Regions from separate parts of the Homo sapiens genome. Here region 2 is linked to region 1. Evidence: fine-mapped expression QTL. Tissue or cell type: whole blood. Region 1 holds a variant in brackets; the other region holds the start of a gene. All regions are shown on one strand. Distances are from middle to middle.

Region 1 (2,759 bases):
GGCAACAAGAACGAAACTCTGTCTCAAAAAACAAAAATATACCCCAAAAAATCTTATACACGTTTGAAGTAGAAAGCTCTGATTTGAGAAACAGAAATAATTGGAAGGAAGAAACACTGAAGGATGAGTCCAGGTGGGAGACTGTGAGTTGTATACAGGGCGTCATCTTCACCATCGTGGTTTTTCTCCGGCAAAGCTCTGCAGCCCTGATATAGCCATGGAGGAGGCAGACAGCTGGATTGAACCTGGCTTACGAAGGTTTAAGAAAAGGACAATGGAGTAAAGGAAGAGAGCCCAAGTGGGGACCGTGCCATTTACACTTCCTAGGAAAGGAGGAGGTAACAGACAGAAAGGAAAGGCCAAGGGCATGGGGGACTTGCACAGGTAAAGAGTGAAGTTAACAAAAACTTATTATACACAATCACACCATTACCAATATTTTACATTTTAAAGTACGCTGCAAGTTTCAAAGATAGACTATTTTTAAAGACTTTTTAAAAGCAGTTTTAGCTTTACAGTAAAACTGAGAAGGTACAGAAATTCCCCACTTACTCCTTGCCCCCACACATGCACAGCCTCCCCCATTATCAACATCTGCACCCAAGTGGTACATTTGTTGCAACTGATGAACCTACATTGAAACATCTTTATCACCCAAAGTCCATAGTTTACAGTATGGTTCTCGCTTGGTGTTGTACATTCTATGGGTTTTAACAAGTGTATAATGATGTATCTGTTATTATAGTATCATACAGAATAGTTTCACTTTGTGTGTGTGTATATGTGAGACAGCGTCTCCCTCTGTCTCTCAAGTGCTGTGGCTCAATCACAGCTCACTGCAGCCTTGATCTCCTGGGCTCAAGCAATCCTCCCACCTCAGCCTCCCAAGTAGCTGGGACTACAGGTGCATGCTGCCATGCCCGGCTAATTTTTATATTTTTTGTAGAGAGGAGGTTTCGCCCTGTTTCCCTGGGCTGGTCTCCAACTTCTCAGCTCAAGCAATCCACCTGCCTCAGCTACTAAAGTGTTGGGATTACAGATGTGAGCCACCATGTCTGGCTTAGTTTTGCTATCTTAAAAATCCTGTATCTTTCACCTATTCATCCCTCCCTACCACCAACCTCTGTTCTTTTTATTGTCTCCATAGTTTTGCCTTTTTCATAATGTCATGTAGTTAGAATCATACAGTATGTAGCCTTTTCAGATTGGTCTCTTTCACTTAGCAACATCCATTTAAGTTGTCCCCCTGCATCTTATCATGGCTTGCTAGTTCATTTCTTTTTAGCGCCAAAAATATTTCATTGTATGGATGTACCACAGTTTATTTATCTATTCACCTAGGGTAGGACATCTTGGTTGCTGCCAATTTGGCTATTATAAATAAAGAAACTGCTATAAACTTTCATGGGTAGGTTTTTTGCAGACAAACCGTTTTTGAATACATAGTCTGAATATAGACACAAATTTTCTCGATCAAATCCTAACAAGCCAAGTATAGCACACTGAATCAAAGTGTGTATCAATATGACCAGAATAATAAAGCAATAAAAACTGTAATATGTTAGGAATAAAAAGCTCTTTAAATTGATTATCTCAACAACTGTTTTGAGGAATTAAACTGTTTGATCATTTCCCTTATCTTCTCTTTGCCCCATCCATTCCTAGCCCTTAACACAGTCAGCATGATACAGTGGGTCAATAGACTCTGTAGCAATGTTGTTTGTATTTCTTTGTTGTTGTTGTTGTTGAGATGGAGTCTCGCTCTGTTGCCCAGGCTGGAGTGCAGTGG[C/T]ATGATCTCGGCTCACTGCAACCTCCGCCTCCCAGGTTCAAGCAATTCTCGTGCTTCAGCCTCCTGAGTAGCTGGGATTACAGGCACATGCCACCATGCCCGGCTAATTTTTTTTTTTTTTTTTTTTTTGAGACGGAGTCTCGCTCTATGGCCCAGCCTGGAGTGCAGTGGCGCGATCTCAGCTCACTGCAACCTCCGCCTCCCGGGTTCAAGCGATTCTCCTGCCTCAGCCTCCCGAGTAGCTGGGACTACAGGCGTGTGCCACCACACCCGCTAATTTTTTTTGTATTTTTAGTAGAGACCGGGTTTCACCGTGTTAGCCAGGATGGTCTCGATCTCATGACCTCATGATCCGCCTGCCTCGACTTCCCAAAGTGCTGGGATTACAGGTGTGAGCCACCACACCCGGCCTAATTTTTGTATTTTTACTAGAGATGGGGTTTCACCATGTTGGCCAGGCTGGTCTCGAACTCCTCACCTCAGGTGATCTGCCCACCTCGGCCTCCCAAAGTGCTGGGATTACAGGCATAAGCCATTGTGCCCACTGTTTGTATTTGTTTCTGTTTGAATAATGGGGCTCTGACACTTAAAAACTGCCTGATTTGGGCAAGTTACTTAACATCTTTGTGCATCTTCTTCCCCATCTATAAAACAGGGAGTTTTAATAGTACTTACTTCATGGATAGAATGAGTTTATATCTATAAACTCTTAGAATAATACCTGGAACACATGTTTGTTAAATAAAATGTATAATATGTATGTGGATCACGTGTGTGAATGCTGGTTCTTGAAGGACTATATGCATTCTGTTAAAGTCTTGCTGAGTCAAACTGTCAGGTCTGTGATTTGATTTTATGCTACTTACAGGTCAAAAAGCTAGCCGTTCCTGGTTTGTGAATGCTGGAGGAAGACAGGAGACATCTACGCCAGAGAAAAAGAAGTTTATTATTCACAGTACAGGAAAAAAAA
Region 2 (2,500 bases), 260 kb after region 1:
ATTTCCACCAGAATGTGCTAACACAGTTCTGATTATGCCATACTCCCTTTTCATGCAACCATTCCAAAAACATATTCTGTGTGTGACACTGATTCCATGGGATATAAATGGTGTTGTGTGACAAAGAGTTCTATGATGACACAGGTTTACAACCAAAAATTTGAACACAGCTTTAGTATTTTTTGTAGCTTCTTGGAGCCCTGCATGTCTAATGTATATTTTGATTCTCCAAGAGGGCAATACAGCAGTAAGGAGCTTCTCAAACTTATTTGGCCATGTAATTCTTTTGTCATGGGACATTTTAAGGTATCAGTGTTTAATGGTGACAAATATTATTCAATGGCTTTCCATTATCTACAGCACACAATTCAAATTCCTTACTACAGGCCTAAGAACAAGGACTGTGAAGCCAGAGTATCTGGGTTCAAATTATGACTGTGCCATTTGCTTAGCTGTGTGACACTGGACAAATTCTTCTCCATGCCTTTATTTCCGTATCTATGAGGATGACAATACCGTGTGTCATAGGGTCAGTGAAAGGATTAGAGTTACTATTATACTGATAGTCCATTCAAAGTGTGTAAGACACTGCCGGGCTCATCGTATTAGCTATATTCTTATTCATGGTCTTTTATCAGCCGTCTTCTCCATCTTTACCTCCTCTTATAAAGGTAGGTCTACTTGTCTTTTGTGTCCTGGGACTGCATCTCCATCGCTGGTGTTGCTCTTCTCTCTGCCTGACGTTCCTCGCCAGTCCCTCGCCTTTCCTCCTACTGATCTGCACCTGTGAGCTCAAACTTTTCCATGTTTCCCAGGCAGACTTGTGCACTTGCACAGTCAGCAAGTATTTATCAGGTGACCAGGATGTACCTCACATTTCTGCTGGGAGGCAGGCGTGTCATGACATTGAATACCCTGACTCCCTGTACATGCCAGGAAGTGTGACTCTGCGACTTCTCACATCCATCCTTCCCTTCTACACCCAGTCTGCTATAGCCGGTTTTAGCCTCGTCCCCTCATCCCATTCCCCACTAGACCTCAAACTGCTCCAGAGCCTTTCATCTTTGTATCCCCAGAACCTAGAATAGTTTTTGGCACATAATATATGCCCAATAAATATGTGTCAATTGCATACATGAATTTGTCTTGGCCACCGTGCCAAGCTCTCCACTGCCTGCTACGATGTGGGACCAGGTCCTCTCTGGGCCTCAGTTTCTTTAACGGTAGACAAGCAGAGTAAAGGCTGCCTCACTGCGCCCTGAGAGGCTGCATCGCGCACTCTGTGACCTCGCTGTTCCGCCTGGCGCGCGGTGGGAGCCCAGGGCGGTATCCAAATTCTCCGAATTCTTGAAAGTAAGCGGAGAAGACTGCGCAGGATCTGAGCGGGTCACACCCAGGGGGCTGCGTGGGCACCCTGCGGTCCCCTGCCCGCCCGCCGGCCCCGCACTCACGCTGCGCGTTGCAGTTGCCTCAGCAAGTACGCGACCCGGGCTCGGGCGGCAGCGGCCATGGCGCTTGGAGTCCTCTTCCCTCCTCGGGTCGCTACACCGCCCCCTCCGCCGGCCAATCACGGAGGCTGCCCGCCTCCCGCCCCTCGGCCGCGCCTGCCCACCCGCTTCGCGGGGTCACCTGTCTAAGCCTCAAGCCAGTCGGGCTCAGGGCCATTTTCCCACGGAGTAAGAACCAGAACGCCAGCTGCCCCAGCGGCGCTCGCACCATCCACCCTTGAAATTGCCGTAGAAGGTAACTGCTCCGTAGGCCTCGGGTTCTGCCTTAAATCTCCTTACTTATCAACTCTATTTTTCACATGTTGAGGACTTGGGGGAAGGAAGAGGAACAGGGATATTCTTTTTCCACTGTTAATCCTTTAAAATGTTACTTTCCCTTCTAAGAGTATTTTAAGTGATCAAGACCCTGCCTTTAAACTGTTTTAACAGTAAACAAGAACCTAGCAGAGCCCGAGGGTTTTTGTTAAATACTGTGTGAATGGCTTTGCTTTTGATGAAAGCAAAATCAATAGTTAAAACTCTTACATCAATAGTTAAAACTTGCCATGATTAGACTATGCTCCGGGAGGGCTTGGCTGTGCCATATCTGCCATGTCCCAGTGGAAAAGCTGATTAACGATAAAGCTCAACTTTATCAGAAAGTATCCAAAGACAGTAACAACTAAACATTTGCATTTTTAGTAATCTGTTATTATGAAATCTGAATCCTTTATGGGAGATATTAAGTTTTACAGAAATGAATTTACTGCGATCAAACTGGAAAAGATTGATGGACAGGAAGACCAAGGACAGCTATATAAACATTTCACCTCCTAATCAAACCAGCTCAGGCCAACTTGACAAATGAATCAAAAAATAATGTTCTATGAGAACACATGTACACAGGGAGGGGAACAACACACATTGGGGCCTGGGGGCAGGGGATAGAAGGGGGCAGAGGGACTTAATACTTAGGTGATGGGTTGATAGGTGCAGCAAGCCACCACAGCACA

The links. PIP is the estimated chance that this variant, and not a neighbour inherited with it, causes the effect.
Region 2: it holds the start of ADHFE1, and the variant in region 1 is fine-mapped to the expression of ADHFE1 in whole blood (TOPMed, PIP above 0.99).

Annotation. Positions count from the first base shown.
Region 1 is chr8:66,690,657-66,693,415 of GRCh38, reverse strand. C8orf44-SGK3 (C8orf44-SGK3 readthrough) reads right to left here. Exons shown (of 19, transcript NM_001204173.2): 3 at 2,656-2,711. Among named protein-coding and RNA genes, the nearest start is that of SGK3, 21 kb to the left of the region's middle. The variant C/T (reference allele first, on the strand shown) is at 1,790.
Region 2 is chr8:66,431,527-66,434,026 of GRCh38, reverse strand. It overlaps ADHFE1 (alcohol dehydrogenase iron containing 1), which reads right to left and starts at 1,523. Exons shown (of 14, transcript NM_144650.3): 1 at 1,452-1,523. The coding sequence starts at 1,510. LOC102724687 (a long non-coding RNA gene) reads left to right here and starts at 1,661. Exons shown (of 5, transcript XR_929013.3): 1 at 1,661-1,743. RefSeq lists a silencer at 1,270-1,689.